2 linked regions of the Homo sapiens genome follow. The protein of the gene in region 2 purifies or fractionates together with the protein of the main gene of each other region. This does not show direct contact. Each region holds a gene or a part of one and is shown on either strand. Other genes may lie near its edges.

Region 1 (7,505 bases), on a different chromosome or scaffold from region 2:
AATGTTAAAAATGTGACCCAAGATCTATTTTCTAAATGACCACAAAGAAGACTCTATGGCTGGGTAAGTTCTGGTAAGAGGTAGGATTTTCCCTATTTTGAGGTGGGTACACAGGTTGTTGGGATTTTTGGCAATCTACTCAGAAAATTTAGTTGCCACACAAAAATCTATAGAGGTTATAAGGGGATTTAGGTATAGTGAGTCAAATCCTATTCTAATAGGAATGGTCTTTATTAAAATACCAGACATACCTACAGCTTTCTTTGGTATTTCTCCCAATGACCTCAGCCTTAGGGACACACCCTAAAGTAGGCTTTTTAGAAGCAACAGCTGAGCCGCGACCACTTACCTAAAAGAATAATCCTCTGTGAATATGTCCAGGAAATCCTGCTCTTAGGGTGCATATTTCCAATGAGTTGCAATTCACAAATAATTTCTCAGCAGTTCAAAGAAAATTTGGGCATAATATTTTCTCTGTTAACCCAACCAAATGTCCTTCCTCGTTATACCCTTAATGATTTCATGCTCTGCCTCAATAGTGCTACTCAGAGTTAATTATGAACAAAATCTAGAGTAAATGCTACAATTAAGATTTTCCTTTTTATACCCTGGCAGATAAGCACAATGCATGATCACCACCATTCACACTTCAACCTCAGCAGAGACTGAAGGGTGATTGCTAATGGTTCTGTTGATGTCTATAGCATTAGAAATTTGAGCATCAATCAACCCGGTGTTTTGAAAAATACATTGCCTAATTTTTTTTCAAAGCAACCGAAGAATGTAACCATAACCAATGATGCCACCTCCCACCAACGGCCACCACCCACTATTTAAATTACCTTCCTCCAGTTCATCCATGCTTCCGATCTTCCTGGATCCATCAATGGTGTAAATGTAACGCACTCCCTGAGGCAGGTTGATGTTGTCAGACAGAGATCGCGTCAGGTCAGCCAGCAAGGCGTCAAAGCTGCGAAAACGGTCAGAGGACACAGCGTACACAATCCCCTTGAAGTAGCGGTCCCCATTGCGGTAGAAACGTACCTTCTTGGCTTTCTTCTCATTACTCAGTGCCTGCAAGGTTCTGGTTCGGTAGAAGCTACAGTGGGCGCTGTGAGTGGGGCTAGGCAACCCATTCATCCGGGAGCCTCGCATGTTCCTGGATGTCTTATCTCTTTCGTCAAAGTGTCCAAAATCAAGTTCCATATTTTGGTGGAACCTCAGAGACCTGAGCGTGGGAGAAAGGGATGGGGGTGAAGAGAGGCAAAAACAAAAAGGGACAAGGAGAAGGAAAAAAGAAGGGATTTTAAATATTAGCCAGATCCAGATCTGCAATCTGCTGCTTGTGAAAAGAACTGGTTGAAAAAAGCCTGTGACCCATCTGCTGCTTGCCCCTGACCTGCAGGAATATTGATCTTAATAGAGAAGAAGGAGGGGCTGGGCGGGGGTGCTGGTGGTTGTGGGGGTTGGGAGTAAGAGATAGAGAGGGAGGCACTCTTGGCACTGTTCCAGACAGAGGAGAAGGGGAGATTTTGAAATAGCTGAAAATCCTGAGACTTACTGACAGTGGCTCCTATCAAATTGGAACTTCGGGCTAAATACATTAAAACTGGCATCTGTTTCCTCACACATGCCCACATGACTAACAGTTGTAAATGAATCCATAGCCTGACAAAATTCCCCTTGAAGAGAACAGAAGGAGCTACCCAAGGTTAGCATCTCCAGCTTAGGAAGCAGTCTTTGCATTTCAGTACAATGACTATGAAGGGGGAGTGTTTTCATTTTATTCCAAGCCCTCTTTCCTACTCTAATGTGTGCATCCCCTCCCCCCAGAATAAACTAAGATTCTCCTTTAAAGGGACAGCCTCCAGGGAACAGCCAGTGTCTTTGTGCTATTCATCAAACCCTTTCCCCACCAAGCTGGTGCAGCTATCCGACATTCATAAGAAATAAGCTGGGGGGAAAAAGGATTAGAAAAATAAGTTATTTAACAAGTTACTAGCTCTGTCTTCCCCCGGTTCCATTTGTTCACAAAATCCTTTTTTTTCCCCCCCAGGTGCTCCACCCCCTCCCCACTGATGCAGCAACACCTCTTAATGGAATAATTTAATTGTTGAAAGATTCACAAATGACTCTCCGAACAGCATACGGGACCTTTAGAAGGAAGCACACCTTTCATTGTTCTGGGTTTCTACCTTAATTGAAGTGACATTTACCCTCACAGCAGGCAATTCACCCCAAACTTGTATATTGCCCAGGTGCATTAGCTGAGAAAAGATGGTCATTTGTCAGGCTTTGCTTTTCTCCCTTCTGTTGAACCCCCTCCCCCACCAAGAACCCCAAACAATCAAAACATGAAACCCAATACAACTGAAGCCACAAATGCTAGCAAATGTAGTGACATCCTACGAGCCAAACTATTAACATGCATCTCACAGATGGGGATAAAAGGACTCACAAAGCAAGCAGGGCTCAGCTGCTACACACTGCCACATCAATATATTTGCAAGGGACCAGGAGGACAGGAGATAAGAAAGACTGGTGCCTAATGGGTCTGCCAGGCTCAATTCCGCCTTTTTTCCAATGTCACCATGACCTATGCTGAGCTCAGCATTGTCTCTGTCAGACAACCTGCAGTGGTAAGAGACCCCACCTCCTCAAGGCAAGCAGCAAACATTTCCCCAGGCATGCCAGTAAGGCTTTGCTTTGCTTTAGGATCAGAGGTAGTATTATTCTAAATTAACATCACAGTGAAAACAAAGGAACATCAAACTCACTTTTCCAAAGGAAAATCCCAGGTAGAAGCTTAGGGAAAAAATCGGATAGAATAAGGCAAAAAAGGAGAAGAGGAGACAGAGAGACAGAGAGAGCAGGCTTTGCCTTGTGCTTTTCCCGTTTGACATCTGTTACATTCTTCTTGAAAATCACTTAAAAGCCCCACTCACCGGTTTTCTGCTGGTTGGGTGGAGATGCTGAGAGAAAGAAAACCAATCTCTCTATGCCTTTGTTGTCTGAGCTCCAAGCAAGAAATTCCTGCCAGGGTGGATAGATGCCTTCTAGGTCCTAGTGCCTTGTCCAGCTTCTCCCATGTAACTCAGGCTTAGTGAATCCCCCCAACCTCCTATGATTAATTACATGCTTTTAAAAAAATTCACAGGCTGCATTAACAGCTAGAAAGGTTTCATTTATAACCAACAGGAAATTGCGGGGTAGCAAAAAGATTGCGCAGACAAAATCAGAATGCTCTAATGAGCAATGTGCTAGCCCTTTCTTTTAGAAAATTGGCAATTTCACTTGGCCAAAACCTTGGCCTAATCTGCCTGGGGGCCAGACTCAGACAGCCAAGCCAGGCTTCTTAGAAATTGTAGCTCTCTTCCTTTTACCCTCTTGAGAGAAAAAAAATAAAATAAAATCTGCAGATTCTTTAAGGCAGTTTAGCTCAAGTATCCAACAACTGGTTTTTTGTTTTTTAATGAAGTCAACAAAGTAGACTAAGAGGAAGTAGGATAGGAACAAAACAAGGGAAAATAATTTTAGAATATTATGGAAGATAGAAGTAAAAAGGACATCCCAAATCTATCAGCTTGGTGTAAGAATTTGGTTAATGAAAGGTTAATGTGGCATTTACCTTTGAGAGTTTGGAAGTTCAAACCCAACCCAAAGACCTTTCTATGTGAAGTAAATCTGATGGCTACAAAATAAATATTAACAGATTTCTCCTCAAACTGCTTATTTGTCACTAACTGACTTCTTTATATAAAATATGTTACAAAAAAAACTCAAGGAAGCATCCAAATTGAACTAATTAGATCAGGCCGAACTATAAAACAAAAGAGAAAGGTGAGAGGTTAAATGGGGTAGGGGGATGCTACCATCTTCACAATTGAAGCTACATGCATCAATATGTAGCAGCCTTGAACTATCATGGTTCTATTTTTGCTTGGCTTCCAGGAAGCTCAGAGCTAAGAGCATGCTCAGTAATTATTTTATATCTGATTCCTAGTATAATTAACCCTTCCTTTTATATAGTGCTGTTGAACTTTTATATTTAAGCATTTTCTCTGCATGTGTTTTATTGTAAGCTGCCACCAAGTGGGATAAAATATATGATGGTCTTTCTTCTGTGAAAGGTGTTGACTCAGCAAAGCCTGGAACTGTCTGTTAGTTGAGTGGATAGCCTCAAATGTGCAACCTACCTAGTTAAGTCCCCCCAACACCTTGCTGCTGATTTCTTGGTTACTATACAAGTACCTCAGGGGAATGCATGTGTCTGCCCTGTTTTCTTCCATGTGTTGTTGCCTTACCTTGTGGCAACCTCATGAAAAATCAACATTATTCAGGCTAGAGGCAAAGAAAAATCAAGGAATAAGGGCAGGAAAATATGGAAATTCCAACAAAGCTAATGTCTTAAAACTTCTTTCTTGCACATCATAAGCATTCAGTAAATATGTAGCAATTAATTTTGCATCAGAACTAAAAATCATTTTATTTCTGGTGAAGATACAACAATGGATGGGATAATAAAACTTAAACACGAACCATTTGGAATGTATTTCAGAGGAAAATTCCTCATAATATAGGCTTTGCAATGCTACTGTGGAAGCTACAAAATGTTTTTATGAGACAGCCTAGGATAAATGACTTTGTTTGCTTTATATATAATAGAGAGCAGAGGGATAGGCAGGATCAATATTTCCTTGTTTGAGATATGTGGGCATTAATAGGTGTTCCTTAAAAACAGGAAAAAAAATTCTGTGGTCAAAAATGTCTGAAAAGTGTTGCGCTAAACGAAGATAATTTTGCTTATCATAAAACTTGTCAGGGCCTTTAATATAAACTATAAAATGTGTCTCAAAAAGAAAACAATTTGGTATACAGGGCTTCCACTTATTTTTAAAGCTCAGAACCTTTTGGTCGCCCCAGAACATGGACTAATGTTCTGCAGGGATAAAAAACTTTTGCAAAAACTGGACTAGATCATCTCCAAAGATATTTCTTCTCAAAGAACTCTCAGCTACTTACCAAGACCTTCTTTCTCACTTCTTCAGAGGAAACAGGCCATTGGCAAAGAGAAGGTCTCAGATGTGAGTCCAGGGAAAAAGTAAATCTTTAAATATGGAAATCAACTTTGAAGGTCAAGGGAAAGTCACGGTTGAGGGAGTGAAGTGATTTAAGAAAAAGAATAGCAACTCTATGTTGGAAATGTAGCAATACGACCTTTTGATTACTTACCATGTGCCCTGTACCACAGGCAAGACAGTGTAGGAAACATCCATCACTGCCCCTGAGGGGCTTGACGACTCATTGAGGAAAGGAGATAGCACAGGACTATGCATCTTGCAAAAATCATGAAGAAGGGATTAGATCTTTCTTGATATACTGCAGTCTGGGTTAATCAAACTCAGCTTAAAGAGCAGGGTCAAGAAATTTCTCATCCATCTCTCTCTCTCTCTCTCTCTCTCTCTCTCTCTCCCTCTCTTTTACTCTCTCTCTCTCTCTCTCTCTCACACACACACACACACACACACACACACACACACACACACAAAATACCAAAAAAATTATTAGTTTATGTTACCAATCAGAAGCACAAAGAGTAGGATCCTGTGTGGGACAGAGTAAGCAAACAGGAAACGAGGTTGGACTTTCCCTTGACCTTCAAAGTTGACTTCCATATTTAAAGATGTACTTTTCCCCTGGACTCACATCTCATATCACAAGATTGCTTATGCATAGGGCCTTTATTGAGAAAATCATAAAACTATTGAAAAACATAACAGAAGCTGTTAATAAATGTAAAGTCAGACCAGGCTCATGGATAACAAGATGCAATGCTGTAAGGTATCAATCCTCCCCAAAGTAATCTATACATATGAAGAAATTCCAATAAAAGCCCCAACACGAATTTTTGTGAAACTCAAAAAATTACTTCAAAATTTTTGTGGAAGAATATAAAACTCTAAGAGTAGCCAAGATCATTGTAAAAAAGAGAAATCAGAAGCCAATAACTGCCCTACAAAAATTTGTTATAAAGCTATAGTAATGAAGATAGTGTGGTGTTGGCCTGGAGGACAGACAAAGATTAATTAAACAAAACAGAGATCAGCATAAACAGGAACTTGCTATATCATAAGATAATGGGAAAAGCATGGACTCTGGAGCCAGACTGCCTAGGTTCAAATTTTGATTCTACTAATTATTAGCTAGGGACCTTGGGTGAGGTACTTAACCCTCTGTGCTTCACTTCACCCATCTGTCACACGAAGGTGATGATAATAATAGTAGCATTCTCAGTTGTTATGAGGATTAAATGAGCAAATATATGTATAGTGTTTAGAACAGACCCTGGCACATAGTATGTATAAGTATTAACTTTTATTATCCCCCGAATATTCATATGCCAACTCCCTCACTTCTTTCAAGTCTTCACCCAAAGGTTGACTTCTCAACAAGACCAACCTAGACTACCTGATTTAAAGTTACAAACTTCCCTCTCAACCTAGCAGTTCAAAATTTTTTTACTCTCTTTATTTTTCCATAACATTTATCACCTCCAACATACTACGTAATATACTTATTAATTACATATTTCCTGAAGGTATAATATAAGCTTCAACAGGGTAGGAATATTCTAACAGCTTTAATGATATATATAATTTACATTACCAATAGGACTACTTTTGTCTATATTTTTAATATTGCATAATTAACTTTCTAGAACAATACCTAACACACAATAGGTTTGGATATTTGTTGAATTGCATAAAGTAAGGAACACATAGAGTATTCAATAGATAGTATTAAGTCAATTAACTTTCATATAAAAAAAATCAAATTAGATACTCCCCTTATACTATACATAAAAATAATCTCCAGATGTTTTAAAGACCTGAATAAAGAACAAAACTTTAAAATTATTGGAAGGAAGCATAAAAGGTTTCCTTTAAATCCTTACGGTAGAAAAGAATTTCTTAAGACACAGAAAGCAGAGATCTTATAAGAAAATATTGATAAATTGATTTCATAAACATTTACAGCTTCTAACGGCAAAAGACAGCATTTAAACATTAAAAAATAAATAATAGACTGAGAAAAAATATTTGAAACTTAAATATCTGACAGAAAGTTAGTGTCCTGATATCTATATATGACACATAGATATTGATATAGTTTGTATTTTTGTCTCTGCCCAGTCTCATGTTGAATTGTAATCCCCAATGCTGGACCTGGTGGGAGGTATTTGGATTGTGGGGGTGGATCCCCCATGACTTGGTGCTGTCTTCCTGATAGTAAGGTCTCCTGAGATTTGGTCTTTTAAAAGTGTGTGGCACCTCCCCTCCAATGCACTCATGCATGAGTGTTCTTTCTCTCTCGCTCACTCTCGCTCTCTTGTTCTCTCGCTCTCTTGTTCTCTCGCTCTCTTGTTCTCTCGCTCTCTTGTTCTCTCGCTCTCTTGTTCTCTCGCTCTTGCTCCAGCTTTTGCCATGTGAAGTGCCTGCTCCCAC
Region 2 (6,861 bases):
CCAGGGTCATTCCTGCTCCTGTGCTGAGCTCAGCCTCTCTGGCCTGAGAACTCTCAAGCCCTTTCTCAAGTGTTTGCTCCTTCAGGTGTATCCTCCTCTGATGCTCCAGCCATCACTCCACTGCTCTTCCTGTCCTTGCCCAAACCCTCTCTCTCTCCACTGCTCTTCTTTTCCCTGCCCAAACCCTATCTTTCTCTTCACCTCAGCTAATTCTTGCAGATCCTTCTTTCTCTCCATTTCCTCTTCTACTTATATAGCTTGCGATAAAGATAACTTTCATGTGGTTACAGCCAATGAGTAGTTTTCATTCTTATCTCTTTTTTTTGTAGAGAAGGGGTTTCACCACATTTCCAGGCTGCTCTTGAACTCCTGAGCTCAAGCGATCTGCCCACCTTGGCATCCCAAAGTGTCGATTACAGGCGTGATGTGGTTTGGCTGTGTCCCCACCCAAATCTCATCTTGAATTGTAGCTCCCATAATTCCCTTGTGTTGTGGGAGGAACCCAGTGGGAGATAATTAAATCATAGGGGTGGTTTCCCCCATACTGTTCTCATGACAGTGAATAAGTCTCATGAGATCTGATGGTTTTATAAGGGGAAACCCCTTTCGCTTGGCTCTCACTCTTTTCTTGTCTGCCACGATGTGAGATGTGCCTTTCACCTTCCGCCATGATTGTGAGGTCTCCCCAACCACGTGGCACTGTAAGTCCATTAAACCTCTTGCTTTTGTAAATTGCCCAGTCTTGGCTATGTCTTTATCAGCAGCATGAAAAAGGACTAATACAAGCCATGAGCCACCACACCCAGCCTTCCTTATCTCTTTTGACTTCTGCAGCTTTTAGCAGAGTTGACCACTTTCTCCTTGAAATATTCTCTCATTTGACTTCCTGGACACTCGACTTTTTTTGATTCTTCTCCCTTTCTATACTTCTCGCCACCCTCTATCTGTCTCCCATACAAGCTCACCTTCAAGGCTTGGTTCTAGACCTCTCTTCTTCTTACCTTACAGTCTCTCCCCACAGATCTTGTCCTCATCCAGATATTCAGTTCATCCACTTGGGATTCTTTCCAACTTCTTCTCAAAATGTGATCTTGTCAGTTCCCTGCAATAAACTTGCCAATGGCATTTTAGGATAAAGACAAAGTAAAATAAAACATAGAAATGCCTTACCATGGCCTACAAGGCCTCTTTGGGCTCTGCCACCACCCTAATTCCCATTTCCCTCTCCTGCACCAGCTGCATTTGCTTCCTGTCAGTCCCTGGTGCTCTACTGGTTTCTACCATGTGGTCTTTGAAGACTGTGGGCCAGATTCCATGCCCAAAATGCTCCAACTTTTAGGCCTAAGTGTCACTTTCTCAAGGAAACTTTTCTAACCTTCACGAATACATGAAGCCTCCTGTCCCCATTACATGATTTCATGGCACCATGGACTTTTACACTTGCGCACAAGTGGTACAACAGCTGCAGCTGTTCACGTGTTGTTTCTGTCTCAACACTACATGGACAGACTGGTCACCACAGTGTTCCAATGAACTGCTTCCCTATCCTTCACCCAGCTGCCTTCACTGCCTCTAGGAGGCATTCCTGGGCAGGTGGCCTTCTGTGTGCTCTTCCACAGCACCCTGCTCCGGACGCTACTGCAGCACTTATTATGCTCTTACAAGTTCTTCATTCTTCCAACCAGTAGGAATTTTGTTGCTGTTTGTTTGAAGTTCAAGCTGTGTATCAGGCATACTAGGCACAGATCTGCTAAAACAACACTTCTTCACACCTCTGTTTGGATCACAGATCAACTCAGAACCTGAGAGTCACAGACTCTCTTTCCAGAAGAAAAGACCCACGCTCACAACATTTCGCAAATGATTTTAGCAGGATTCATGGACACCCTGCAGCCCGGCCATGAATGACCTGCACTAGATTTACAAGCGTTGGGAAGGCAGGAACTGAACGGTGTTCTGCTTTATTCCCTGCACCCAGCAAAGAACTTGTTCCACAGAGAGACAAAATTAGTATTTGTCAGGTGAAACTGAGTGAACAAGTGGATGCGGTACATTAATGCAGTGGGTAAAACTGGGTTAGCAGAGCCAGACTGCCTGATTCCTGGACAACAGTTGTGTTGTGACTTGAAGAAGTTACTTCACCTCTCTGAGCCTCAGTTTGGCATCAGGAAAATGGTGATACTATCTCCTGGGTGACTGCAAAGATCAAACGAGTTAATACCATAAATCACTTAGAATATGCAGAAAACTCTTCACATATACTAAATCATTAAATCATCACAACAACTCATTTTAAAATGAGGAAACAGACGCAGGTAAAGGAACTTGCCCAAGGTTACTCAGCTAAAAAAAAAAACAAAAAACAAAAAACCGGCAGAATTTGGACTCAAACCCCACAGGTTGGCTCCAGAGTCCTGCCTGCTCTTAGCCCTGTGCCCCCACATATAGCAATGCTTTTGGTAAATGTTTGTTAAATCACAATGTGGGCTGTTCTAGGATGCTTGTTTCTTAAGCATTTTTGGGGAGTGAAATTCACTTCTGTAATACACAGTTATGGTTAGTATGGTCTTCTCTACACCACCACTGGTTTCAATAAAGTTCTTCTTTCGTAACACATATGCCCTGCTGCCAGTTTCAAATTGACCAACGTTTATAAGCAAGGAAAAACGAGGGTCCACGGAAGATCTCCAGGACCGATCAAAAGGCCGCACATTCACTGTGGGGCCTCCGCTTTTCCAGAGAAACCCGGCAGGCTGAGCTGAGCGTCTGGCGAGGCGTGGGGTTTTGCGGGCCCTGACCGCTGCGGCGCCGCTGGTGAGGAACACGCCCAGGAGCAGAGGAAGGGGGCGACTCACCCGTCGGCGTCAGCTCCAAGCAAGGCACAGGGAGTCCCGGGGGCCAGGCCCCGTCCTTCCCTCTCTCTCCGGCCAGCCTCCCCACAGTCCGCAGTCCCCGAGGCCTGGAGCCGGGATTTCGGTCCTCGGTCTCAAGAAGCTCCCGACAGTTCTCAGCAGCGCCAACCAGGCCATCAGTCCCTTCGCCCATGGCCAATCAGGGCTCGGGAGATGACCGCCAACCCCCGCCCCCCCAAGACACGCCCCCGCGTCCCAACGCAGCCAGTCAGAGCGCGGGACACAACTACGCGTCCCTCCCCGCACCACGAGGGCGAGTCGGAGTGGGAATCGGCTTTCCAGGCAGCCCAGCCTGTGCTGGCGGGGGCATCTGGCATTTTCACACCCTTTCCTTCCCAGCATTTTAGGAAGCGGAGTTCCAGTAGCTTTGACGCTTAGAAAATATAAGAAAAAAAAGAAGTAACAGAAACCGCTATATCTTTAAGATAGAGCCAATCACTGTTCCCAAAATAATTCAGTTAGGTAAAGAACCAACTTACAAAAGAAATGTTTAAAAAACCCCCAAAGTTCTTTGAAACACATCTGAACTCTTCCCCGCCCCCACCCTACCCCAGCAGTTAGCGACTGTCTTTAAAAGCCATTCTCCTTTCTCTCCCTCCTTGCCACCTTCACCTAAATACTCCCCTTTTCTGATAAACTGCCAAGTGGTTTCCATTCTAATTATTACCGGTGATGCCCAACCTCATACACTAAACACGTTAATTTCTCCTTAAAGCCAGGCTGAATGTCTCTCTCATTTATTTTCACATTTATCCATCCAAAAAACAAGTATTTATGGCAGGCCTGCTAAGTGCCAAGCATATTGAAACAGCAATGAGAAAATAGAGGGGGAATAAAACACATTCCCTGTCCTTATGGAGCTTACATTCTAGTGGAGGGCAGAGATATCAACAACTAATAACGTGACTAATCACACCTAGTTAAGTGTTATCGAGGACAGGGTGCCCTGAGCTGGGCCTGGTGATTCTGTTTGTGTGGAGTTGGAGTCAGGAAAACTGGTTTTCCCAGCTGGAGGTGTCTGCTGTCAGGTGTTCGTAGCACACTGTGCACAGTTCTGCCGTCGGTGGCACTGGCATACAGACTGCCCTCGCACCCTGTGGAGTGAATTCCTTGAGGCTACTGATTATTTTTTCTGTCAACAATGCTGGGCACACAGTAGGAACTCAGGAAATGTTAACTAAATCTTTGAGTCTAGTCTCACTATGCAGTTTAGGCTCAACAGGCTATATTGAGAGGAGCTCACACGTGCATTTAACTCCACTGAGTAGCAGCAAGAATCCTGGCTCCTCAAGATCACCCACCTCTGATCTCTAGGATATTCTAGAATGATCTGAGCAACTCATGTGTACAGCTGGGGGGTGTTTGTCCAGCAACTCCTGAGTTATCCGAATATAAAAACTCTATTATGCATAGATTTATTGCACACTTTTTCCTGAAATAAAATGATTTGGGGTCCAGACTAACCAAAGTGTGTCATTTGCACTTAGGAAAAGGAAATTAGGATACAGAAAAGGAAGTTAAGGAATGTAAACTCAGGACTTAGAACTGCAAGCTGCCATCACTGGTCAGGAGGGAGGGAGCAGAAATGTGCACCAGGGTGCTGGAAGCTTGTATTAGGGCTCCACGTAATTGTGCAAGGAATTACAATACATATGACCCCGTGCATTGTAATCAAAACTTGAAACTGACAAATCAGCTATGCCAACTGTATTAAATAAATGCTACTCAAAGTTTTTTCCAGCCCAAATATTTAAACAGTGCATTTCTAGGACCATATAATCAGAAAAAAAACCTTGAATGAAGAAAAGGGGAAAAGAACTTACAATTATGCATATTATGTACAAGAAAATTACAAACACATTTGAATTGTGAGAAGATCCTGAAATTTCTAGTATGTAAGAGATGCATTAAAAATACTGATAGACTTTTATATCTCAAATTTACTTATTTATTTTAAGCAAATATGAAAAACATAAGGACTTTGTACAGTTCATTCAAAACCCTGGTTCTCTCAATATAATTTTCCCAAGTTGTCAGTACAGTTTTTGGCAATAAGAATTGAAGAAGTATTTGCTGAATGAGTAAAATGTCTTAAATCCCTTAACCACAAGTAGGATTTCTAGTTAAGGGGAGAACACTGATTCGAACATCATGTATCTGCTCAAGTAGAGCATGATGACTGATGCCTTTTCTTTCCCTTTCAGTGATTCATTTTGACCACTATTTACACCAAACTGAAAAAGCTTTCCAAAAAACTCCCTAATAAAAAAAAAATCCTCTTACATTTATAAATAGCATACCAGTGCTTATGCTGAGATAGTGTTCTTTTACTGTTTATTTATTCACATTAAAACTGAATCTTTGGCCGTGCGCGGTGGCTCATGCCTGTAATCCCAGCACTTTGGGAGGCCGAGGCCAGCGGATCATGAGGTCAGGAGATCGCGACCATTCTGGCTAACGGTGAAACCCTGTCTCTACTAAAAAATACAAAAAATTAGCCGGGCGTGATGGCACGCGCCTGTAGTCCCAACTACTCGGGAGGCTGAGGCAGGAGAATCGCTTGAACCCAGGAGGCAGATGCCGCAGTGAGCCGAGATCGTGCCACTGCACTCCAGCCTGGGCGACAGAGTGAGACTCTGTCTCAAAATAACAACAAGAAAACTGAAATCTATGACCTCTTGTACGGTGATGGTAAATCTCAGGTCTATGAATTTCTCAACTCTGCACTGTACAACCAGGTCCAAAGAGTAGGATGTGAGGTACACTTACCATAAAAAACAATTAAAATATTACTTCACTTTAACAGTGGTGAAAAAAGAACGATAAAGCACAGGATTTTTTCTTATTCTTTTTCTCGGTAATGGATTTCCCACCTGCCGCCCCATCCCCGAGACAAGGTCTCACCCTGTCATCCAGGTTGGAGTGCAGTGGTGCAATCATAGCTCACTGCAGCCTCAAATCCCCTAGATCAAGCCATCCTCCCACCTCAGCCTCCCAAGTAGCTGGGACCATAGTGCACACCACCACACCTGGCTAATATTTTTGTTGTTTCCTTTTGTAGAGATGGGGTCCCAAGATGTTGTTCAGGCTAATCATTTTTTTTTTTTTGAGACAGAGTCTCACTCTGTCGCCCAGGCTGGAGTGCAGTGATGTGATCTCGGCTCACTGCAAACTCCGCCTCCTGGGTTCATGCCTCAAGTGATTCTCCTGCTTCACTTCAGTTTCCCAAAGTGCTAGAATTATAGGCATGAGCCACCCTGCCTGGTCTTCTTTACTTTTTTTTTATTTTTATATTGATTTTTTAAAAATAGAGATGGGGTCTTGCTAAGTCTCCAGGGCTGGTCTCAAACTCCTGGCTTTAAGTGATCCTCCCGCCTCAACCCCACAAAGTGCTGGGATTACAGGCAATGAGCCACCACACCCAGCTCAGATGAGGTCTTGATCTGTCCACCCAGGCTGGAGTACAGTGGCACAATCATAGCTCACTGCAGCCTTGACCTCCTGGGCTTCAGTGATCCTCCCACCTCAGCCTCCAAAAGTGCTGGGATTATAGGCGTGAGCCACCACACCTAGCCTCAGTAATGGAATTTATTGATCATTGTTAATTCACTATCCAGGATATTTTTAAAAATGCATATCATCTAAAATGTTATCGTTTCTGTATTTTTACTCAACTTTTATCTTCAGTTATCTTTAAATTATCATACTAAATATCTATCATGATTAATGATGGGAAAATGAAAAGCCACTGGTTATAATTCAGAATGGCAAGAACTAACCTACTAGAGAACACTAAAGGGATAATAACAATACTAATAAAAATAATGGCAGCTAACCAGAGCTGTGGCATACAGCTATGCAGACTGTGCACTGTACACGACAGGGGGTGACACAGCATGGCAGCCCTGTGGCTAACACTGAGTACCCTATCACATGCCAGCTCATAAGT

What was found. Proteins that work in one complex are often made in the same cells at the same time.
Region 1: the proteins of MTERF2 (region 2) and DCX purify together in Homo sapiens (affinity purification with mass spectrometry; 2 studies listed by BioGRID and IntAct, with this or other methods). This does not show direct contact.

Annotation. Positions count from the first base shown.
Region 1 is NC_000023.11:111,409,193-111,416,697, forward strand, and holds the start of DCX (neuronal migration protein doublecortin), read right to left. Parts: upstream 3,001-7,505; 5' UTR 2,946-3,000; exon of another isoform or gene 2,778-2,945; intron 1,955-2,777; exon of another isoform or gene 1,783-1,954; coding exon of another isoform or gene 1,562-1,782; intron 1,229-1,561; coding exon of another isoform or gene 1,207-1,228; coding exon 843-1,206; intron 1-842. UniProt on the Homo sapiens protein: Microtubule-associated protein required for initial steps of neuronal dispersion and cortex lamination during cerebral cortex development. May act by competing with the putative neuronal protein kinase DCLK1 in binding to a target protein.
Region 2 is NC_000012.12:106,984,114-106,990,974, forward strand, and holds the start of MTERF2 (transcription termination factor 2, mitochondrial precursor), read right to left. Parts: upstream 3,034-6,861; 5' UTR 2,856-3,033; intron 2,197-2,855; exon of another isoform or gene 1,113-2,196; 5' UTR 1,002-1,112; intron 1-1,001. UniProt on the Homo sapiens protein: Binds mitochondrial DNA and plays a role in the regulation of transcription of mitochondrial mRNA and rRNA species.